Homo sapiens: one gene and its partners. The protein of the gene in region 1 purifies or fractionates together with the protein of each later gene. This does not show direct contact. Each region holds a gene or a part of one and is shown on either strand. Other genes may lie near its edges.

Region 1 (3,500 bases):
TCTGGTCAGCTACCTTATGGTGTGCCTCAATTTTATCCTCTGTGATGTGGAATTACAATATCCACCACATCCACATCATCACAGAACTGTTGTAATGATGCAAAACACATAAAAGCCCTTTGTAAACTGGAATTTGCTACATAAAAATATATATATATATACACACACACATACACATATATGTATATTCTGCTCTGAAATTTAGCACCCATTTCACATTTTTCTTTTTTGTTCTTTTTCTCAAAGAGGACCACCCACAATAAAGATTCGTCTTACACCTTGAGGTCTCAGTCCTGAGAACTATCGCACAATTACCCTCTCCTTCACTTCTTGGTGAGGCTTGGGATCTATATTATGATTTGGAACTGTTTCACCTTCCCTAAACACTTTAATTTGCCCCCTTTACATGTCTGCTCATAACCTTTACCCACACCTTTGCTTCTCTCTATCCCTTACTGAGACAGAGCCAAGTATTTCAACATGGTCTCTTAGAAATCTAGAAAAACTCACCCAACCTTGTATAACCCCACCAACTGATTTATGCCTGAATCAGAACTACTAAGTTTGCTAGTCATAAAATGTTATGAGATTGGCTAGGTGCGATGGCTCACACCTGTAATCCCAGCGCTCTGGGAAGGTAGGCAGGAGGACTGATTGAGATCAGGAGTTGGAGACCAGCCTAGGCAACATAGCAAGACCCCGCCTCTACAAAAAAATTTTAAAGTTAGCCAGGCATAGCAGCATGCACCTGCAGTCAGTCCTAACTACTCGGAACACTGAGGCAAGAGGACCACCTGAGCCCAGGAGGTGGAGGCTGCAGAAAGCTATGATGCACCACTGCACTCCAGCCTGGGTGACAGAGGGAGACCCCATCTCTAAAACAAAACAAAGTTATAGGATCACATTGACTGTGGTAATTACTTCATTTCAGCATCTTGTTTTCTTTTTTTTTTGAGATGGAGTCTCCCAGGCTGGAGTAGAGTGGCGCGATCTAGGCTCACCATATCCTCCACTTTCCAGGTTCAAGCAATTCTCCTGCCTCAGTCTCCTGAGTGGCTGAAATTACAGTGGGCACCTGCCACCACGCCCAGCCAATTTTTGTATTTTCAGTAGAGACGGGGCTTCACCATGTTGCCCAGGCTCTTCTCAAACTCCTGAGCTCAAGTGATCTGCCCAGCTCGGCCTCCCAAAACGCTGGGATTACAGGCGTGAGCCATTGCAACTGGCCAAACACAGAAATTATCCTCTCTTCCTAGATTAACATTTTTTCTTAAACTCCTGATCTCAAATCCTTCTCCTTCAAGGTCTTACTACACAGAGAATGTAATAACCTTAACAGCAATCCAAATAGCCGTTTTGGCAATGGCTCATGCATGTAATCTCAACATTTTGGGAGGTCAAGGCAGGAGGACTGCTTGAGGCCAGGAGTTCAAGCCTGGGCAACATAGTGAGACCTCATCTCAACAACAACAACAACATCCGTAAACAGCCATTCTGCAGACTTCATTTCCCCTAGCCATTATGTCAGATTAAACAGTACAAACCATGTCAGTTTTTTTTTTATTTTTCAATGTTTATTTTAGAATCACAGAATACATGTGTAAGTTTGTTAGAAAGGTATACTGTGTGATGCTGAGGTTTGGGGTATGACTGAACCCGTTTCCCAGGTGCTGGGTATAGTATCAAATAGGTAGTTTTTCAGCTGTTCCTCTGCCACACAACCCCCACCCCCACCCTGCCGCACCACCACCTCTAGTAGACCCATGTCTATTGTTGCCATCTTTACATCCATGTGTACTTGATGTTCAGCTCCCACTCTCACTGCGTGAGAACACGCAGTATTTGGTTTTCTGTTTCTGTGTTAGTTTGCTTAGGATAATGCCCTCCAGCTACATTCATGTTGTTGCAAAGACATTATTTCATTATTTTTAATGGGTGCATAGTATTCCATGATGGCTATGTACCATATTTTCTTTTCTTTTCTAGTCCGCCACTGATGGGCACATGAGTTGATTCAATGTTTTTGCTATTGTGAATGGTGCCACAATGAACATACAGGTACATATGTTCTTTTGGCAGAATGATTTATTTTCCTTTGGCCGTATATCCAGCCATCAGATTGCTGGGTCTAATGGTAGTTCCACTCTTAGTTCTCTGAGAAATCTCCAAACTGACTGTGCCTACGCTAAATTAATTTACACCTTCACCAACAGTGTACAAGTGTCTGCTTTCCTCTGCAGCCTCACCAACGTTTCTCATTTTTTGACATTTTAACAAAAGCTGTTCTGACTGGTGTGAGATGGTATCTCTTTGTGGTTCTAATTTGCATTTGTCTGATGATTAGAAATGGGCGTTTTTTCATGTTTGTGGGCCACATGTACGTCTTTTGAGAAGTATCTGTTCATGTCCTTTGCCCACTTTTTAAGGGGGTTATTTGCTTTTTGCTTGTTAGGTTCCTTATAGATTTTGGATATTAGACTTTTGTTGGATGTATACTTTGTGAATATTTTCTCCCATTCTATAGGTTGTTTACCCCCTTGATAGTTTCTCTTGCTGCATGTCACTTTTCTTGAAAGATCTCTTGGATTCTGTGTAGTTCTATACCTCTGACTGCCTGTTTCTACAGGATGTTCTTTTTTTCTTTCTTTTTTTTTTTTTTGAGACAGAGTCTAGCTCTGTTGCCAGGGTGGAGTGCAGTGGCGCGATCTCGGCTCATCACAACCTCTGCCTCTCGGGTTCAAGCAATTCTCCTGCCTCAGCCTCCTGAGTAGCTGGGATAACAGGCACGCGCCGCCACGCCCAGCTAATTTTTGTATTTTTAGTAGAGACGGGGTTTCACCATGTTGGCCAGGATGGTCTCGATCTCCTGGACCTCGTGATCTGCCCACCTTGGCCTCCCAAAGTGCTGGGATTACGGGTGTGAGCCACTGCACCCGGCCAGGATGTTCTTTCTCTCTATACCTCAAACTTAACACATGTAATCAGGAAATCAGCAGTCTGCAAAAAAAAAAAAATCAAGAGCTTCCCCTACAGGTCTTATTTCTGTAAATGGAATCTTAACTCTCCCAGACAACACTTAATACCAGAGTCATGCTTAACTTCCTGGCTGTCTTCCACCATCCATCACTGAGTCCTGCATGCAGTCCTTCATCATGTTGTTGTTCCTGGATTACTTTGTTTTGTTGGTTTGTTTTGTTTTTTTTTTTTTTTTTTTTTTTTGAGAGAGAGAATGTCTCCCTGTCACCCAGGCTGGAGTACAGTGGCATGATCTCAGCTTACTACAACCTCCGCAGCCCAGGTTCAAGTGATTCTCATGCCTCAGCCTCCCAAGTAGCCGGGATTACAGGTGTGTGCCACCATGACTGGCTAGTTTTTATATTTTTAGTAGACACGGGGTTTCACCATGTTGCCCAGGCTGGTCTCAAACTCCCGACCTCAGGTGATCCTCCCGCCTCAGCCTCCCAAAGTGCTGAGATTTAGGCATGAGCCACTACGCCAGC
Region 2 (3,500 bases), on another chromosome or scaffold:
TTCCACTGACCAATAAACAGAACTACAGGTGCACCCAACCACGGACATGCATTAACTCGTCATGAGAAATCTAGGTAGGCTAAGTAGGATGAGAGAATGTTTGTCACTCCCAAAAATATCTGGAGAGGAAGAATGGAGGATTGGCATTGAGATCCATGTGGACAAGCTAAGTGGGCTCTGTCTGAAAGCTGGCATTCATCCACAACATTAAAAAAATATCAAAATAAGAAAGGCTGTAAATTAAAAAGAAAACACAGAAAATACTGCTCTCATAAAGATCTGATTGCCTTGGCACAGGCCCTGTGGGCAGAATCAAACGCATCACTCCCAACTCCCATTGCAGAAGAAAAGCTATTCAACTCTCAGCGGTGGAGGAGTGCATGTGGCGGCAGTTTCAGGTACAAACGATGTACTGCACTTTCAGACGCGGATCTTGGAAATCCAGGACTTCTTGGTAAAGTTGACTGAAGGTATATTAGATATTTCCCCACAAAAATACTATTTGGATTCTCCCACCCCCTCCCTCCCTTGATGGGACAACATCCTGTATTTTTCCTTGGGCAATACATATCATTACTTCCAATTTGAAACAAGTTAGTATAGGAGAGAGAGAGAGGAGAGATAGGAGAGGAGAGAGAGAGAGGAGATAGAGAGAGAGATAGAGAGAGAGAGAGAGAGAGAGAGAGGAGATTGTTTTAAGTGGTATTGTTTTTCCTATAGGCTGTCCTTGTCACTCTTTCACGGTTACGGTTTGGTCGGAATTAGCTGCCGGGGCCTCCACCGGCTTGGGCTCTTCTGCAGAGGCTGCGGGGCCCTGGGCCTTGGGTGTGGAACTAGGCGCTTCCGTGGCTGCGGGGGTCTCCTTGGAAGAGGGGGCAGCCTCCGAGCTGCCGGGTTTTGAGTCTGAAGCTGGGGCCCCGTCACTTTTGGTCTCCTGGGCGGCAGGAGCTGCGGGCGCCTCAGTCTTTTTGGGTTCCCCTTCCTCCTTGCTGGGCTCCTCCCCGGCGGCAGGGGCCGCGCTCTCGGCCGGGGCCGCGGCGGCCTCAGCAGCTTTGGGGGCCTCGCCGCCCGCAGCGGGGCCGGGGGCCGCCTGCTCCTGCTCGGGCGCCTTCGGGGGCTCAGCCTTGGCCTCTGCCGCGCCCTCCGTCTTCTCGGGCTCCGCCTTCGGGGCCTCCTCCTTGGCAGCCGCCGCGTCCTTCTCGCCCTCCTTCTCCTCGGCCTTGCCCTCGGCGTCCTGGTCGGGCTTCTCCTTGCCCTCCTTGGCCTCGGCGGGCTCTGCGGCCGCCTGGGGCTCACTCTCCTTCGGGGTCCCCTCCTCTTCCGTCGCCGCGCCCTCGGCCTTCTTGTCTTTCTCCTTGGCTTTCTCGTCGTTCACATTGTAGCCCTTCTTCTTCTTGCTGAGCTTGCCTCCCATCTTGGAGTTCTGGAAGCAAACACAAAACAAAACAAAACGGCGGTTACTAGGCAAGTGTGGGGACCACAAAAAGCTGCATTTTGCAAAGCAAGGGGTTCTGGGCCTGCTGCACTGCACACCCCAAAGGGGTGGCATGGTAAACTATAGTTAGGCACAGTTAAATTCAATTTATTCATGTATTTATTTTTGAGACAGGGTCTCGCTATGTTACCCAGGCTGGAATGCCGTGGTGAGATCTCTTCTCACTGCAGCCTCCACCTCCTGGGCTCAGGGGATCCTCCCGCCTCAGCCTCCCACACAGCTGGGCCCACAGGTGTACCCACCACGCCCAAGTAATCAGTTAAATTATTATATTACACTGTTATTACACAATTAAAAGTTAAAAATTTTAAAAAGAATCAAAAACATTAAGGAGCTCAATTAAGTGAGTTCTGCAATAATTTTAAATGAGTTTTTAAAACAATGTGTCACGAAAAGAAATTAAGGAGCTCAGTTGTGGAGCTTCTAATCATAGCCAGTTGAGGGAATAATAAGCTGAGATCAAAGAATCAGTGATTAGAGGCAAAGTTTGTCAACCCTGGAGAGGAGGAGCGCTATCTGTTTTTCATCTGCAATCCCATGTCTGATGCAAACACCAAGCGTGGAACAGGCATGTGCAGCATGGCAGGGGCAGCCATCTTAGACCCAGGTTAGAGCTAGAGAAAGGCGTTGCAATTTTAAAATGCTTTCTGGAGAAACTGCACAGCTGTAATAAAGCACAAATCACAGATTTCTAGAAAATAATCTCAAACTACAAACTCTCTCTGCTACATATGTGTGTGTGTTATATCAGCAAACACATCTTCAAACACGTAAGGTAAACAGGATTCAGTCTATCTTCTTACCAAGCAGGGGCAGTTATGAAAAAGCCAGTGTCTCTTGCTGGCTGTGTCTGACATAAATTCATTTCAAGGTATTTTCAGCTTAAAAAAAGTAGTTCTATAGTAACATAAAATTGTTGTTCATTATCAATTTCCTGGTTAGAATTCAAACTATACATGCACGTTCAATGGTCATTAACAACTGTCTTAAGGCTGCCGCTTTCATTCTGGCACAAGAAACTCCATTTGTATTTGAATCTTGAAATTCTCTCCTCTGAAAACCAAGCATTAAACCAGATAAATAATAAATTATAAATTTATAAATAATAAATTTCATCCAGAACCATGGCCAGAGCTAAACAGACTCTTGGTGCATTTTTTTTCCTTCAAGTCCATTTTTCTGTCACCACACATCAGTGAAAATCCACTGAAATGTTGCTTTTGCAAAGAAAATGGTTGCTTTTCCTGGATGAAGCGTGGCAGAAATCACATTATACTATCCTCGTTAGTCCCATAAATGAGAAAAGCCCAGGAGAGAGCATCAGCCTTGCCCTGGACCCCAAGGGAGGTTAGAAAGAGCAGGGGGGAACCACCTGGTTTTGCCCAGGTCAGGTCCACTGGCAGAACTGTACACACTCCTTTGCCAGCTTTGCAAATATATACATCCCTTATTTAGAAAAGAAGGATTTGCTGTTTATTACTTCCTTGGAATCAAGATTCATGACAGTGAAATAACCTATATTTATCTTATTAAAAGTCGAGTTTTTGGTGGAAGAAAATGAATTCTTCAGTCAAAATTTTTCTCACCATTCTATATGCTAATTTCTAATCTGGAATGACTTCAGTAGTTGGGGGAAGAGAAAAGCAATAAACTGAAATTTGACTAAAATACTATTCATATTCTCAAGAAAGGTCTTTATGATGTTACCTAAGATTCTCTTACATGTCCTTTTTTTTTAGAAAAGGGGGTGGCAATTGGTCATAACCTGCTTCAGACAGGCTCTATTGGATTTAATTTTTGATTATTTCTCCCTCAAAAGTAGAAACAAACATACATGGCAAAAAATACAATTAAATATACTTTCATCCTATAAGCAATCACAGAGCAGTACATGAAAATATAAAGAAATAAACCGGATCAATATTTTAAATTATAGTTTATAACTCTTCCATTGAATTCTTAACTAGTCAGTATGCACGAATGGCCTATACCAAATATAATTTCA
Region 3 (3,500 bases), on another chromosome or scaffold:
CCGGGGGGTTCAGCCGCAGCTGGAGCCGGAGCGCCCCCTGAAGGCCAGGCACAGCGGGTGCCAGCTGAGCCCAGTCACCGAAGGTGGGGCAGGTGATGGTGAGTATGGGCGGCTGCACAGGTGGGGGCGTGGTGGCCAGGATGTCCCGGATCTGTATGGAGGAGGAGTGGTAAGGGACCACCTAGAGCCAGGCAACACCTAGCCCGGTGGGAAAACTGGGCGAGGACACCCTCATCCTTTCCCCCAGGGCCTGCTCCTCAGGGCCCTCCCGCCAAAACCCAACCCTCTCCAGCGCCACAAGGCTCTTTGATCTGGCCTCACCTCCTGTCTCTCCCTCCCCTTCAAATGCCTCCCTGCCCCAGGGCCTTTACACTCACCATTCTCTCCTCCCAGGGCACAGCTCCCTCCAAGGAGACTCTCCACGCCCCACCTGTCTACTGAACCTTTTCTCACCATTTTTAAGTGCCCCACTACAATGTGAAAGTGAGGTTTGCCATTTTGCCCATGTGTCCTACCCAGACTGCGGGCACCAGGAAGGACCCATTTGGCTCCATCCCTCATCAGGACTTTGGGACATCTGCTGACCTACAAACTCAGCTCACACCACACCCTTTCGCGGGCAATGGGACTGACCCCAGACAGCCAGGAGGCATGTGTCACCACTGCCATCCTACAGAGGATGGGGAGACCAGGCCATGGAAAACAGCAGGTCGCTGGTGCCACACAGCCTGATACACCCCAGTCAGGATTCAGAGCTGGGGAAGCAGGGGATGGCAAAGGGGTGGCTTACCTCTCTGTCCTTCAGGACCTGGAGGAAGTGGTGAGGCGAGAAGCCCCCTGTCTGTAGCAGCAGCTCCCCCGTCTCCTCCAGGCAGGGCCCAGCCAACACCAGTAGCTTGTGAGAGGCAGGGTCCAACAGAAGGTTCCGGAGCTGAGGGAGGGGGTGAACACTAAAGGACCCGTTCTGTGCAGTGACGTATCCAGCAGTCCTCTTTGGGGTAGCCTCGAGTCGATACATAACCACCCCTCTCCTGTCCTCACCCCACGACCAGCCCAGTGCTCAACTAGCTACGAAGGCAGTCTCCAGGTCTCCTGCTGGGCCCTGGAGCAACCCTAGCAAACTCCTATTCATCCTACAAAGCCCAGCTCTGATGTCCCTTCCTCCTGAAGGCACTACTTGCCCTTTCTGGGCTCTCTCTAGTCCACCTCTCCCTCCAGCCCAGCCCTGATGCCACAGGGCTGGGGGTGTCTGTGTCTCACTCTGTCTCTTAAAGACTGAGAGCCCCTCAAGGGAACAAAAGGGAAAAGTTGATCCAAGGAATCAACCTGTAAGAAGGTCTGTAGTGGGATGCCCCAGGGCTCTGTCTGGTTCATCTTCCGGATGTATAATTGGTAGAGTACAGATGGCCACAAGCTGGTTAATGTTAGTGAGTCGATTCAGACAACTCCTGGGGCCTAGCCGGAGGGAACCCACAGGAGGAAAACCTGTCTGCTCTGGCCTTCCCACCTCCAGACCCACGCTGTCCTGGGCCCTGAGCTGGGAGTGCTTACCCTCCCCTCCCTCCCAAAGTCCAGGCTTTTCTGCTCCCACCCCAGAGGAGGGAAGAAGCGGAGGCTGAAGCCACAGGGAAGGCTTCGTGGGCGAAGAAGTGTGGTGCCGGGTGTCTTGAGAGGATCTGGGGCAGCATGAAGACAAGGACACGAGACAGGAAGACAGAGAAGGCACGGGTCCCAGCAGCCCGCCCCCTCCAGGACGTCAGCCATTCCCTACCTCATCATACAGGGACTTGTCTGATGGGTTCAGGAGGACCAGGGTCTCCAGGTTGTCTCCACGGTGGTGCAGGCTCCGCTGGCCTGTGGGGGAATCAGGCCGTCCCGGAGTCAAATCCTGCCTCCCCGTGTGACCCTCAGGGAACATGAACCCCTCTGGGAACCCACCCAGGGATCATATGGAGATTAACAGGCGCACGGCAGAGCTGCAGGTCAGGACCAGGCAAGAAAGAGAAACTCAAACCACCCCAGCTGGCCTAAGAGAGGCAGTAACCAGAGGGCCCCATCGTGCGCAGGGCCTGGTTTGCAGCTGTCACCCCTGGGAGTGATGCCACCATTTTCTTCTTTTTTTTGTGAGACGGAGTCTCGCTCTGTCGCCCAGGCTGGAGGGCAGTGGTGCAATCTCTGCTCACTGCAAGCTCCGCTCCTCCTCCCGGGTTCACGCCATTCTCCTGCCTCAGCCTCCCGAGTAGCCAGGACTACAGGTGCCCGCCACCACACCCGGCTAAGTTTTTGTATTTTTAGTAGAGACAGGGTTTCACCGTGTAAGCCAGGATAGTCTCCATATCCTGACCTCGTGATCCGCCTGCCTCGGCCTCCCAAAGTGCTGGGATTACAGGCGTGAGCCACCGCGCCCGGCCTTTTTCTTTTCTTTTTTTTTGAGACGGAGTTTTGCTCTTGTTGCCCAGGCTGGCGTGCAACAGTGCAACCTGGGCTCACTGCAACCTCCGCCTCCTGGGTTCAAGCAATTCTCCTGCCTCAGCCTCCCGAGTAGCTGGGATTACAGGCACACGCCACCACGCCCCATTAATTTTTTCAATTTTTAGTAGAGACGGGGTTTTAACATGTGGGTCAGGCTGGTCTCAAACTCCTGACCTCAGGTGATCCGCCTGCCTCGGCCTCCCAAAGTGCTGGGATTACAGACTTGACCCACTGCACCCATCCGGCCACATTTATTTTTCAGACAGAGAGCCAGAGCTCGAGGAGGGCCAATGAGGGCGAACGTGGACGAGGGTACATCCGGAGCAAAGGTCCTGAGGCAGGACTCAGCTAGGGGTGGGGCAGCATAAGGGCCGGGGCTGAAGTAGGGCTGTTTCTGGGATCCTGACCCTGCTCTGTCCCCCAGGGCCCGTATGTGTTTTAAACATCAGTACTGTGAGAGGGGGGTGGCAAGGAGCCAGAGCCGGGGTGGGGGCCGGTGAGGGCCAACCCGGACCAGGGTACAGCACCAGCCAAGGCCCCTGAGGCAGGACTGAACTGTGAACAAGGCTGAGTCTTGAGAGGCAGAGACCCTCCAGTGTTGCCAGCCCTTATCACATTTAACTTTCTTTCCTTTCTTTCCTTCTTTTCCCTTTCTCTCTCTCTCGCCCTTATCACATTTAGCTTTCTCTTTCCTTTCTCTCTCTCTCTCCCTCCCTCTCCCCCTCCCTCCCTCCCTCCCTCTCTCTCTCTCTCTTTTTTGAGATGGAATCTCCCTCTATTGCCCAGGCTGAAGTGTAGTGGCACGATCTCAGCTCACTGCAACCTCTGCCTCCTGAGTTCAAGCAATTCTCCAACCTCAGTCTCCCAAGTAGCTGGGGTTATAGGCGCTTGCCACCACAACCAGCTAATTTTTGTATTTTTAGTAGAGATGGGGTGTCACCATACTGGTCAGGCTGGTCTCGAACTCCTGACCTCAGGTGATCCACCCACCTCAGCCTTCCAAAGTGCTGGGATTATAGGTGTGAGCC
Region 4 (3,500 bases), 1.2 Mb from region 1:
TCAACACAATGCAGCAGAAGTTACCCTGCCAGTTCCAGGCCTACCTAGACCTGTGGGGCCCGGTAGCCTCTTTTTTTATTTTTTAAATTATTTATCTTTTTTTCTTCCTGACAATAAACTTAGGAAGCTCAGTAGCTTCTGCTTTTGTTCTCTTGGAAGCCTGCAGCCACGCTACAAAGAAGTTGTGGTGAGACGACTAAGTGAGGATGGACTATGAGAGATGTGGGGGAAGCAGTGAGGTGCCCCAACCGAGCTTCCTGCGGAATGCAGCCCAGGAGTGACCCCAGCCTTGAAATCAATGGACTTAAGCACCACTGTCTCTGCAGAGCCCTGCCCAGATTGCAGAATTGTGAAAAGATAGTTGTAAACACAGCAGTAGAACACGGAGACATGAGGAAGATACTAGAGAGGACAACCGAAACGGGGTGGTCTAGAGATCATGCCTGTGGAAGATTGTCCAAGGAATGGGTTTTGTTAGCTCTATGGGCAATAAGAGAAGATAATGTTTGTTTGTTTGTTTATTTATTTATTTTGAGACGGAGTTTTGCTCTGTGGTACTCTTATTTTTTGTAATGAGCTCACTGCTCATTATATCCAGCATGTTGCCAAGTCAGAATCATTTCATGTTCACCTTTCAGTAACCCACATTCTGTTTATCCAACTGTAGACTAGCTTAGGCCTTGGTCCTACCTCATCCCTGAATTACTGCTATTACTCCTTCTCGGGGCTTACTCTTCCTACTCCCCACTTCAAGTACTTGTTTTGTTCATGTCAGCCCATCTCAAGAAGTGCCTATGGAGAACATTTGGGAGCTGGGCCAAAGCAGCATTTCCACAGAACAAGCATCTGGACGAACTGTCTTCCCTATTTCCTTTGCAGCCTTAGACCTGAAGAGGTTTGTTTTTGGCTTTCGGCTAACCAAAAAATCTCAAAGCATCTGGCTATACTCTGTGAGGTTATCTGTATGTTTGGGTGACAGAGCTCCTACATGAATAAGGTGAACGCACCCTCATTTTCTTCCTTTAGAATTTAGATTTGACCTTTATAACATATGCAGTGTGCATGAGCACACATAAAAACTTAACGTTTGATAACAAAAAGTCTTTTTTTTTTTTTTGGAGATGGAGTCTCGCTCTGTCACCCAGACTGGAGTGCAGTGGCGTGATCTCGGCTCACTGCAACCTCTGCCTCCCAGGTTCCAGTGATTCTCCTGCTTCAGCCTCCCAAATAGCTGGGACTACAGGTGTGTGCCACCATGCCCGGCTAATTTTTGTATTTTCTAGTAGAGATGGGGTTTCATCATATCGGCCAGTCTGGTCTCGAACTCCTTACCTCGTGATCCGCCCACCTCAGCCTCCCAAACTACTGGGATTATAGGCGTGAGCCACCATGCCCAGCCTTTGAATAGTCCTTTTTATAAAAGCAATCATGAGTTTCCTATAGCTCCTTTAAAAAAAAAATCTCTGTGTTTTCTGTTCACTACACTAGGATTCAAGTACAACAGCCCCTTGCTTACCGCTTCTACTTCCTTTAGCACTCTGTGCTTAAGACTAAGGTCCTCAAACACAGCTTCAATCACCATGTCGGCCTTTTCAAAACCTTGGTAATCAAGCTGCCCAGTCAAGTTGCTGAAGATGGAATCCCTTTCAAATGATGTTAGAGCTTTCTTCTTCACTTTGTCATTCAATCTAGAAAAAACACATTCCTAGTTAGATGGGAAGAAAAGGAAACTAACGTTTATTGAATGTCCATGGGCCAGAGCACACCTGTGTTTTTCACCAACTCTGTGAGGTAGTTATTCTATTACTCCCATTTTGAGGGAGACTTTCAAGTTGTTTAGTCTTAGAGGGACCTGTGGTCAAATAGCTTGATAAGGGAGGGTGCTAGCATTCAAAGACATGTTAACTCCCAAGTACACATTCTTTCTACCATAGAATGCCTCCAAATGCCCAATTTACGTAAACTAAATCACTCTTAAACCAGTTAAATTTGCCAAGAGGAGTAAATAACATGAATACTAGAATGGCAAAACAAAAGAGGAGTTCTGGTAATTCTCTACCTATGACAGGGGAAGCAGCCAAAGTGTGTCTGAGACCACATGGTTTATATTTGCTTATCGCAAATATATAATTTTATGTTATTCTGTAGTTGTAATCTTTTTTTTTTTTTATTTATTTTTTGAGACGGAGTCTCGCTCTGTTGCCCAGGCTGGAGTGCAGTGGCGTGATCTCAGCTCACTGCAACCTCTTGTCTCCTGGGTTCAAGCAATTCTCTGCCTCAGCCTCCTGAGTAGCTGGGATTACAGGCGCCCACCACCACGCCTGGCTAATTTTTTTTTTTTTTTTTTTAGTAGAGATGGGGTTTCACCATCTTGGCCAGGCTGGTCTTGAACTCCTGACCTCGTGTTCCATCCGCCTCAGCCTCCCAAAGTGTTGGGATTATAGGCGTGAGCCACCGCGCCCAGCCTGTGGTTGTAATCTTCTAAAGAACAGAGACCAAGCATTATTTCCTATATTCTCCATCTACTTCCCACTCATTACCTAGTAGCACATTGCACTGATTACATAAAATATTAACTCAAGGTTTCTTTTTTCCCATAGGGAGCAGAAAAGGATTCCTGTTATTCAGACATTCAACTGATTATTTTTCGTCGCCAAGGGAAACAGGTTCTCTTAGATTCCGTCTGACCACACTTTCAGAATAAATTACCTACAGTTTTCCTCTAAATGAAGAATGAAGCTAAACCCCATTCACTAATTTCCTTAACCAAAAGCAAAATTAAGGCCACAAGATAAATACAAAGGAGTATTCAAAGAAGGTCTTAAGGGCTGGGCATGGTGGCTCACATCTGTAATCCCAGCACTTTGGGAGGCTGCAGCAGGCGGATCACTTGAGGCCAGGAGTTCAAGACAAGCCTAACCAACATGGTGAAATCCCGTCTCTATAAGAAAAACAAAAATCAGCTGTGCATGGTGGCGCATGCCTGTAGTCTCAGCTATTCGTGAGGCTGAGGCATGAGAATCGCTTGAACCCGGGAGGCAGAGGTTGCAGTGAGCCAAGATTGCACCATTGTGCTCTAGCCTCGGTAATAGAGTGAGACTGTCTCAAAAGAAACAAAAACATCAAATAAGGTCTTAAAAGTATGGGCTCAAAGCTTTTGTTTTTGACAATCATGACAGCAGTCAGCAAACAAGATACTTGTCAGCATTCAAAACATTATCAGTTGCTCTAATTCTAATGCCTGATTAAACTATTCCCAAGAGAGGACAGGAACTATTGTCCCAAGTCAGCAGTGTGGTGAGCGGCACTCGCCAGAACCTGATGTTTCTAAGACGAAAAGGGGAACCCAGGACACTATTCAAGAGAGACTGGGGGAGGAAACTATTTTAGAGCAACAATTTCTTACTTTGGTGATGGTATGGAATGCTGTTTGGGATGCTTGCATGCTAGTTTCAGGGCACTGCTGCTATCTAGCACACATCATTTTTTTGGTCAGAATC
Region 5 (2,202 bases), on another chromosome or scaffold:
GTAGAAAAAGGAAGACATAAGAAACTCTATTTTGATCTGTACTAAGAGAAATTATTCTGCCTTGAGATGCTGTTAATCTGTAACCCTAGCCTCAACCCTGTGCTCGCAGAAACATGTGCTGTGTTGACTCAAGGTTTACTAGATTTAGGGCTGTGCAGGATGTGCTTTGTTAAAATGTGTTTGCAGGCAGTATGCTTGGTAAAAGTCATCACCATTCTCCAGTCTCGAGTACCCAGGGACACAATGCACTGCGGAAGGCCGCAGGGACCTCTGCCCAAGAAAGCCTGGGTATCGTCCAAGGTTTCTCCCCACTGAGACAGCCTGAGATATGGCCTCGTGGGAAGGGAAAGACCTGACCGTCCCCAAGCCCGATACCCATAAAGGGTCTGTGCTGAGGAGGATTAGTGAAAGAGGAAGGCCTCTTTGCAGTTGAGATAAGAGGAAGGCATCTGTCTCTTGCTCGTCCCTGGGAATGGAATGTCTTGGTGTGAAACCCAATCGTACATTCTATTTGCTGAGATAGGAGAAAACCACCTTATGGCTGGATGTGAGACATGCTGGCAGCGATACTGTTCTTTACTGCACTGAGATATTTGTGTAAAGTCAAACATAAATCTGGCCTATGTGCACATCGAGGCACAGCACCTTTCCTTAAACTTATTTATGACACAGAGTCCTTCGCTCATGTTTCCTGCTGACCCTCTCCCCACCATTACCCTATAGTCCTGCCACATCCCCCTCTCCGAGATGGTAGAGATAGTGATCAACAAATGCTGAGGGAACTCAGAGACCAGTGCCGGTGCGGGTCCTCCATATGCTGAGCACCGGTCCCCTGGGGCCACTGTTCTTTCTCTACTTTGTCTCTGTGTCTTATTTCTTATTTCTTTTCTCAGTCTCTCGTCCCCCCTGACGAGAAACACCCACAGGTGTGGACGGGCTGGACCCCTTCAATGTGGAGAAAAATGGCCAAAGGCAGATGTGTGCCAGAAACCCCTACAGGGGCTAAACAGTCAAGACACACCAGCCGCTAACTAGAATAAGTTGTTAGGCCTCCTAACTGTACTTCCCATAAACCTCAACTGCCCAGCACAGGTGTCTCAAGCACTGCCCATGGCCAAACTACACTTCCTAGGAAGCTCAGCAGCCCTGTTCAAAAGCCTCAGTTCCCAGAGAAGGCAAAGAGGGGCTAAACACCGGGTAGACTACACTGCACAAATTCAGCTGAGCTTGCTTCTCCCTCTCAGGGAACCTGGTGCTGATTGCTGGTAATTGCCTCCTTCTGGTCCCTCCCTGGGAGGATTAACATCCTAGGGGCATTGGGTCCAGTGCGTAGACTGAGCTTCATCTGCCCCTTGTTCAGGTGGGGGGAACCCATCAGTAAATTATAGTTTTTATAATCCACTTGATTCATATGGGACATTTATAGCAGCTATTTCTAACATCCTTTTCTGCTATAAGTGTGCCACTTCTGGGTCTCTACTGAGTTTTCTTCATGTTATGGGGTTATATTTTCCTGCTTCTTTGCACACCTGGGTAAGTTTGTATTGGATGCCAGACATGGTCAATTACTGACTGGTAGATTGCTTTCTATTTCTTTATTAGTCTCTGTTTGGAAAATTGCTAACTTACTTGGAAAGTATGGCCTTTTCATGGCTTGCATGTATGCTTTGTGAGGAGAGTTCGAGGCAGCCTTTACTGTAGAGCAAATCTGAGCCACCCACAGAGGCAATACTCCTTACTTAAGGTCCACTGTGATTCTCCAAATGTTAGGAGGCGTTTCCACTCCAGCTGGTGGAAATGCTTGTGTGTAATCCAAGGATTTTTCTGCGTGTTCATTTCTTCCTGTTCTTCCTCCAGCCTAGGGGGGGTTTCTCACATACATATGCTGATTATGACTCAAAAGGCTTGTGGGGGAAACTCTACAGAACTCTCAATTCTTGAGTGCAGCTCTTCTCCAATAATCCAATTCATGAATTTGGGCCACCTTGAATTCCTCAAACCCTAAACTCTGTCTCAATTCAGAGAGATGGCTGGGATCTGCTTGGGTTTCTCCTCCCAATCCTGCAGACTGGAAACTTTCTCCAGGCACTAAGCTGGGGCAATCATAAGGCTCATCTCATTGTTTCCTTTCTGTCATGGAAAGCTGTCCTAAGCCCTTTACTTCTCAATGTCTGATGAAGTTCATTCATATATTTTGTGCAT
Region 6 (3,500 bases), on another chromosome or scaffold:
CTCTTCCTTCCATGCAGCACCAGCAGCACTGGTGGAGAAGGGCAGAGCTGATGGGGACTTAGACTCTGACCTCTTGACGCCTTGTTGCAGAGCTCCACAGAGGACGTAACTCACATGCTGTCCTGGCCTGCTGCTTGGGGACCCTACAGGTCACTGCTGTTTTAGGTCTACTCCAAGTGTGGTTCTGAATCAGCCTCATCAGCACCACCTGGGAGCTTGTTAGAAATGCAAATCCATGGGACCTGCTTCAGACCTAATAGAGTGAGAACCTCTGGGGGTGGAGGCTAGCTCCTCAAACGCTGCTGATTCTCAGTAAAATTTGGGAAGCATTTTAATTAAAGAATTCTCTGGCCAGATTGGTTGATGGACTCATTAAATATTTAAATTTTTCAGCCTTTTGGTGGATCTTGGTACTTCCTAGTTGATGTTACTAGTGTATCATTATGTACTATCTTGTAATATTGTAGGGCAGTTTAACAAAATTGTTAAGATGGTGAAATTGTGAGATGGTGACTTCCATTTATAGTTATAAATTACCATTATTACTATTGAACTTTCTGACATGTACAGGATCTTTTTTTCTGCAAAAGACTAAATCCACCAAGGGTGAGGAACATTTTTATTTTTGTTCTCATAATACCTGGCACAGGCTTCAGAACAAAGTTGGTGCTCCAATCTATTTTACTTTAGTTAGTGACACTGACTATCAATGACTTTAAACTGAAGACAAATATGCCTCGTGTATGACTATTCTCACTGTGCATGTTTTATTACAGGACAGTGGAGGGAGTGCTAAACCTTATTTTGCATGAATGTGTATATATGTATGAAATAGGCACATACATGATATATAACATATTTATATATTACATATAAATATTTTGATAGGTAAATAATATACACAACTTTATTATATGTAATATATATATTATATGTTATAATATATATATAATATATATTAGACCTGTGTTCCGAGTCTGCCTCTGAGGCTTGCCACTGAATAAATTATTTGAGCTTAAATTTACCAATCTTTAAATAAGACAACTTGTATAGTATGCCCATCTCAGAGGGATTATATGAAGATTCAAAAGGATGAAGCAGGTGAATGTTTTCTAAAAATGACAAGGTCCCATATAGATAGATCATGCGATTTAATTTTTCTTTTGAACATTTTTTAGTCTTCTATGCTTGCCTGCTCCTTTTAAAAAACTATATAAGAAAAAAATCATCAGAAATATAATAAAAAGATAATTTTTAAAGTGACAAGAGTGCAGGATCATGTAATATGTCATTAAAAGACTAGAACAACTTTGGTAATTTTTCATGTGTTTGAATATTTATTATGAGAAGGGTGCTAATTGGAATTTCTCAGATAAAGCTGTAAGACTTAAATAATAACAATAGATATTTTTGTTGGAAATAAAAAGTAACTCTGCATTAATAAAAATAATTATGTTCTGAAGCAGAGTTCCCAGGGAGGCTGCAATAAGTCTATCCTAAAAGTGCCTGAGATGATTAATGTTCTTCCCGAGAGTCTGGAAATGATAACAGTACCATCTTGATGGGATTTTCTGGTCTCAGTTTTGTAACAGTCAATATATTATAAGTTGGGGTTGTTTCGTGTGAGTTAGGTTGCTCCTCACTAGGAAGCCCAAACTGGGAAACTATTATTATAATAGGTTTACTGTGAGCAGCTTTGTTAATGGAAGTTAAACTTTATGGCTGCATTTCATAAGGAAAAAAAACTTCCAAAGACAGAGTAGAATGCTAATAAAAATTTAATTTACACTTTAACATGCTCTCTTGTAAAAGTATTTGTGGGACTAGGTTTAGATAAATTTCACTCAATTCTCTTTATCCTGATATAAAGACATACAACTAAAAGATGGACAGATTTATTATCCTGATGATCTATTGTTATATTGGGTACTTGTACTAATGGTTAATGTGCGAACTCCAACATCCAAAATACAATTATTCCAGAAGAATAACTGCTAAATGGGCACTCTTGCAGGCGTTGCTTTACAATCTTTGTAAAAAAAAAAAAATCATTCAGTCCTAGGCAATATTTTTGCCCTATAAAAATAAATTATTTTAAATGTGCTCTATGAGAACTGTAATTATCTATTTCTTGCCATAAAATAAATTTTGAAACCCATAACTTTCCAGAGTATTAAATATTTTACTCTGGAGGTCAACAACAAGTGAGAACAAACTTAAAATATTTTTGTTATGGTTTTATAGTATAATATGTGGCTCCTACTCTAAGTACAATTCCTAAAGAAGCTATATTTCCACATGACCAGCAAAATGATGGCTGAAATGCATTAATTAACCTTTACACTCATATAAAAGTGTTTTGTGAGAACAAATGTACACAAATGTTATCTTTAATCATGACTAATAAAAATGGATATTATAAACACAAGCTTTACTACTGCAAATGTCTCCTTGACAAATGACAGGGCCTGATTCCTTTATTAAAAGATAATTAAAAATGTTTCACAAGGGATTCAAAACCTTCCTACAGTTCTCTCCTGCCTGCCTGCCTGCTTTGATGGTAATATGAAGAGAATCTTGAAATAACATCTAATAGTTATATTAAATGTGAATGTGTAAATTTATTTTATTCAACAAAATGTTAAAACTAAATATCTCTGGCCTATGGAAGTAGTTAAGGAGGCATTTTGAAATGTGCTAACCATGATGGGACTGAGGAGATTAAGTCAATGTTATTTCTGGAACTGGTCATCAGAGTGTGTTCCCACCAGAAATCGATGCTGTGCTGAGCCTGCAGAACGCCATGTGTCTCATACGTTACAACCCACACGGCCTCATAGCTCTCTTTCTCCCAAAGCCTAAATCATGGCAATTATTTGAATAAGCCCCAGGTAAGCTATTAAAACTAGGCATCAATTTGGAAGTATTTTCTCTTCAAGGTGAGTCTGTGATCAGAAAGGAGAAGACCATCTCTGGTCTGTTTAAATAAAATGGTGATATCACAGGTGTGACCTCTGCAATGGGAGCTCACCTCTAACATGGAACAGATATGAGACTAGCAGCAATCGGTGAAAGATGGATTCCGAAGCCAGATGGCCTGGGCCCAAATTCTGGATCTGACTAACTGTGTGACCTTGAGTAAGATACTTCAACTTTCTGTGCCTCAGTTTCCATATCTGTAATAGAACCTACTTAGGATTATTAAGTGATTAACACAGTTAATATGTGGAAAGTTCTTAGAACAATGCCTTGCATGTTATATGTGCTATACAAGGGTTAAATCAATCAATAAAAGTTACTTCCCATAGAGAATCTGGAATTTATGAATACACCAGAAAAACAGTTGAAAGAAAGCACCATTGCGGGAAAATGTTTGAGTAAAGAAATAGGAAGACTTATTGGCTCGAGGCCCTCAAGTTTAGATTTTTGTCATCTCCAAATGAGGTTATACAGAGAGCCCTGCCCGACTGCCAGAATTAAACATTTAAAACATGAATTAC
Region 7 (4,300 bases), on another chromosome or scaffold:
GATGGGGGCCGCCCAGGGTGGGCGACCGGGCCCTGACAGGAGTCCCTCAGGGAGTGACCACATCCCCCCGCCAGGGTCAAGGGAGCCTGCCCTGAGACCTGCCCGGTGTACTCTGGCTGCACCAGGGGCCCACCCCACTTGACAGCCCCAAGGCCCTTGCAGGTTCTGACCTCCCAGCATCCACCTGCCTCTCCCTGCACCCGAGCCACACACCCTGCGTTTCAGAAGTGGCACCGCTCGTCAGCTCCCTCCCGCCCTACCTCCCCAGGGATCCTCTGTCTCTCCATCCTGTGATCCCTGAGGGATGGGCTCCTGGCTGGGCTCCTCTTACCTGGCCCCAGATCCCTTCCCAGCACCAGACCCAGGTCTTTAGCCGCGAGCCCTGCTGCCTCCCTGGCCTCACCGTGAGATGCCCAGAACGGGGCCCTGCCCATCTTCTCCCCCGTTCTCCTAGGGCTACAGCCCCCATTGTCACCATGCCTTTTCCCCTCACGGGACAGTGAGGGCTGTAGCTCTAGGGGAATGGGGGAGAACAGGGGCAGGTGGGCCCTCAGAGACCTGCTGGACAACAGCCCTGAGGCTGGGCCAGGCGTCCCCTCACCCTGTGGCCATAACCCTTGCATCTCACCGGGGTTGTCTCCAAGTAGACAGGGCCAGACCCTCAGGCTGCCCCGCTCCTCTTGTGCTCACTTGCCGACAGAACTGCTGAGCGCCCAGGGGCCTGACCTAGCCCAGTCTCCATTCCCACCGGCTCCCTAGATGGGCCCCACACCTCTGGCCTAACAACCTCGGGCTGGACCTGCAGGGGAGTCAGGGAGGAGTTCTGTCCCTGGAAAGGAGGTTGACCCGACCTGGTGAGACATGTCCTGCGTCAGAAAGGCCTTTCTAAAAGCAAACCCATCCCTGAGCTGAGACAGGTGCTTTAGGGGTGAGGGGAGTGCAGAGGACTCACTGTACAATCCCCAAATGATCGACGTTGTTGTTGTAGCTTCGAAAAGGCTTAGGCCCCTTGTCCTCTGGCAGCCCAGCTCGGTGTCCCTGTAGCCCAGAGGGAGCCTTGGTGAGGGGTCCAAGGTAAAGGGTGCAAGGGCCTGGGGGCATTGGCCACCCGTCCCTGCCCTGTGCTCCTAGGGAGCCCAGGACCCTTTGACCAGGGCACACTGGAAGAGGCCTCCCTCCAAGAAGCAGACCGACTTGTACCTTTTCGTATTTCATAATGATGTCCTCTCGCTCTTGTGCCCACCAACTGCCCGCGACCTCTACCACGTCCATCCTGTGAGACAGAATTGTCTAAAGGTCACACTGTACGCGGCGGCTTCGGAGAACACCTGAACCGCTCTCGCCGGGCTCCCAGATGCTGGCTGGCTGCGTAACCCCCATTCCACCGCCGCCCCCAGGGAAAAAGGGGCCAGACCCAGTGGCCCACAGCTGCTCCAGTCTCTGGAGTCTCAAGTCCCAAGCAGGGGTGGGCATCTTCCCAAGGACTTGAGTACAGTGGGACCTAGACAGAGAATCCTGTTGTCCCCCAATGCCATGAAATGGGGACACACCGGCCCCAGCAGGTTGAATGGTTTCCACCTGCCAAGGGTGAAGGGCCCATGATGGGCTATTCCAGGGATGTGGAGGCAGACTGGGGTCAGCGACCAGAGGTCTCTGTGCAATCGGCCTCCTGGGATGCTCAGGGCCTCAGCGATGCCCAGTTTCCTACAGGGAACAAGATCTCTCCCGACTGCTCGGTTCTACTCCGCTCATCACTTTGGCTACCGTGGCTCTTCAGTCTGAACAGTGAAGCCACTTTAGGAATAACGCCTGTTGAGCAGGAGGGTGTTGGGTTTGGGGGATGAGGAAGATCTATTGTACGCATGGAAACCACGTCTCTCGCGGAGGGACTGTGGAGTCCACCATTCTGAGCCGTCCCAACAGGAGGAGGCTTCATTTTCCTGGGTCACTGAGGAAGAACAGTGGGTCCTTGGTCCTGGAGAACAGCTGGATGGACCGTCCCTCCTGGGAATACTCGAGGCAAAAGGAGGGCGAGGCCTCAAGAGGACCACGCAGAGCAAGAAATACCTGGGGAGAACCCTAGTGCCCGGACCCCTTTGAACACAAGGGAAGATAGTCTCCCCTCAGCCAGCCCTCCAGGGCTCCTTCATTTTCCACAGCTGCCCAAGGGCAGCAGGCTCCCCCGGACAAGGGACCATGTGTGTTCAGTGGGGCCCACAGCGACCATCAGGACCCAGCTTAGGGCACAGAGGTGTTCTGAGGACCGTCAGTGGATCTGTACCAGTGGCTCTATACCAGTGGCTCTGCCAGGACCAGGCTCTGCCCCATCGGGATGGGAAACCTGGGCAGATTTGGGATCTAGGGCAGGGAGGTCACAGGGTTCAGGCCTGAATTCCAGCACAGCACACGGCAGGGCTGAGAGCAAAACTCAGGGTCATGTCCGGATTCCCAGGCCGGTTACTGCCTCTCTGACCCCAGACGTCTCATCTGTCGAATGGGGACATTTGGGAACAGCACCCACTCTACGAAGCCACCATGGAGACGAAAGAGCCAATCGTCTACACGGGCAGTGTAGAACGGGCGCCTGGTGAGTGCTCAGGGATGACCCTCCTCGGTAGCTGCCCCACAGAGGCCAACACCGCCCGCACCGTAGCCACTGCCCCCAAGTCCGCCTGGAGGGAAGAGAGCAGGTCACGCTCACCTGATTCTGATGAATCAGCTGGCCTGGGTCATGCCTCTCAGGGAGAAAACCTTTGAGTCCACAGAGCTGCTCACAGATACCACTGCCTGTGTGTAACTGCTGTAGACCACTGAGGCAGACCAGAGAGCAGATAGGTGCTAAGCACCAGTGACATTCTGAGGTCATGGCACGAATCACAGTGGGGCCTTGCCCGGGTCAGCAGCACCCAGAGTCAGGGTCCTCCGCTGCCTGAGGCGTCAACATGCCTGCCTGCAATGTGTTTGTGCACGTGCGTGCACATGTGTATGTGGGTAAACACATCTGTGCACGTGTGTGCTGCTTCTCTGGCCAGGCCCGGCTGCCCCACTCATGTGTGCACCCAGTTCCTCATCACTGTCACCCCCGAGGCCCAGGGCCAGCATCAGAGCATCCATGGCTGCTCCCTAACCTCAGCCCTCCCTGCCCAGGGTGGTCCTGGGATACACATAGCGGTGGAGGGAAGTGACTGCTGCTGTTGGATCTCAGAATACAAAAGCTAGTACTATTACCTAATGGTCTTTTTAGTGTCTCTAATGGTATCGCTTTTTCATTTCTGATATTTTAACTGGGTATTTCTCTCCATGACCCTTGGATATTCTAGCTAGAGGATCCTGTGGGGAAAGTGCCGGGCACACAGTAGGGGCTCACTCTTCTAGACATGTTATCTAAAACCTGGTTCATCTGTCCTTCCACACAGGGCCTAGGGGATGCCAAATTCCAGGGGCCAGAAAGAGCTTGGGATAAAAAGAAACTTCAAGGGGACGGCTTTGACCTGGGCTGAGTCTGCCTGTGCCATCCAACTGGAGTCTCAAGTCCTGAGGCAGGACGTCCAGATGCCCCAGTGCAGGGTCCTCCTGATCAACACCTGCTCCCCTGTACTCATTAGCAACCTCACCCACCCTACTCTCAAAGCACACTTGGCTCTCGTATCCAGGAGCTCTGCATCTGTAGATTCAGCAACAGCAGATGGAAAATATTCAGAAAATAAATTGGACGGTTATGTTTCTATTGAACATGTGCAGAGTTTGTTCTTGTCATTATTCCCTAAAGAATCCAGTATCACGACCATTTATGTAGCATCTGCATTGTATTACACATCATGAATAATCCAGAGATGGTCTAATGTCTACGGGAGGATGTGCATAGCTGATATGTAAATACTAGGCCATGTTATGTCAGAGACTTGAGGATCCATGGATTTTGGCATCCCCGGGGACCCTAGAACTAATCCATGGATACCAAGGGATGACTGTATAAACTCACTCAGGAAGGCTTCTCATTGGAGGAAGGTCCCAGTTCAGGACACACAGGGACATCTCCCTGGACTACTGTCCATTCATCCATCCATTCATCCATTGTCTCCCCCCACCCCCCCATCTCGGACTGTCCCAGTGACAGCCCTAGCAAGAAGAGACAAGAAACAAGTTCACGTTGTCCAGTTTTGAGGTAATGGAAGAAGTTGCACCAGTATGAGAATAGTGGGTCAGTTTTCTACAGGATGCAGAAAGCATATCGGGCAGCCTCGGGGTGCGGAAAGGAGCCTGGCCTCTCTAGCAGCCACACAGGCCTGCAGTAGGATGG

Evidence for each region.
Region 2: the proteins of PPM1G (region 1) and BASP1 fractionate together in Homo sapiens (co-fractionation; one large-scale study listed by BioGRID). This does not show direct contact.
Region 3: the proteins of PPM1G (region 1) and MAP1S purify together in Homo sapiens (affinity purification with mass spectrometry; one large-scale study listed by BioGRID and IntAct). This does not show direct contact.
Region 4: the proteins of PPM1G (region 1) and HADHA purify together in Homo sapiens (affinity purification with mass spectrometry; 2 studies listed by BioGRID and IntAct, with this or other methods). This does not show direct contact.
Region 5: the proteins of PPM1G (region 1) and ZNF577 purify together in Homo sapiens (co-immunoprecipitation; one large-scale study listed by IntAct). This does not show direct contact.
Region 6: the proteins of PPM1G (region 1) and STMN2 fractionate together in Homo sapiens (co-fractionation; one large-scale study listed by BioGRID). This does not show direct contact.
Region 7: the proteins of PPM1G (region 1) and TBC1D3G purify together in Homo sapiens (co-immunoprecipitation; one large-scale study listed by IntAct). This does not show direct contact.

The regions. Positions count from the first base shown.
Region 1 is NC_000002.12:27,389,092-27,392,591, forward strand, and holds part of PPM1G (protein phosphatase 1G), read right to left. Parts: intron 1-3,500.
Region 2 is NC_000005.10:17,273,131-17,276,630, reverse strand, and holds part of BASP1 (brain acid soluble protein 1), read right to left. Parts: intron 1,424-3,500; 5' UTR 1,415-1,423; coding exon 731-1,414; 3' UTR 1-730.
Region 3 is NC_000019.10:17,722,480-17,725,979, reverse strand, and holds part of MAP1S (microtubule-associated protein 1S), read right to left. Parts: intron 1,855-3,500; coding exon 1,772-1,854; intron 932-1,771; coding exon 791-931; intron 152-790; coding exon 1-151. UniProt on the Homo sapiens protein: Microtubule-associated protein that mediates aggregation of mitochondria resulting in cell death and genomic destruction (MAGD). Plays a role in anchoring the microtubule organizing center to the centrosomes. Binds to DNA. Plays a role in apoptosis.
Region 4 is NC_000002.12:26,199,633-26,203,132, forward strand, and holds part of HADHA (trifunctional enzyme subunit alpha, mitochondrial precursor), read right to left. Parts: exon of another isoform or gene 2,688-3,500; coding exon of another isoform or gene 2,601-2,687; intron 1,689-2,600; coding exon 1,517-1,688; intron 1-1,516. UniProt on the Homo sapiens protein: Mitochondrial trifunctional enzyme catalyzes the last three of the four reactions of the mitochondrial beta-oxidation pathway.
Region 5 is NC_000019.10:51,868,750-51,870,951, forward strand, and holds part of ZNF577 (zinc finger protein 577), read right to left. Parts: 3' UTR 1-2,202. UniProt on the Homo sapiens protein: May be involved in transcriptional regulation.
Region 6 is NC_000008.11:79,617,617-79,621,116, reverse strand, and holds part of STMN2 (stathmin-2), read right to left. Parts: intron 176-3,500; exon of another isoform or gene 155-175; intron 1-154. UniProt on the Homo sapiens protein: Regulator of microtubule stability. When phosphorylated by MAPK8, stabilizes microtubules and consequently controls neurite length in cortical neurons.
Region 7 is NC_000017.11:36,322,384-36,326,683, reverse strand, and holds the start of TBC1D3G (TBC1 domain family member 3G), read right to left. Parts: upstream 2,801-4,300; 5' UTR 2,702-2,800; intron 1,274-2,701; 5' UTR 1,273-1,273; coding exon 1,201-1,272; intron 1,039-1,200; coding exon 953-1,038; intron 1-952. UniProt on the Homo sapiens protein: Acts as a GTPase activating protein for RAB5. Does not act on RAB4 or RAB11.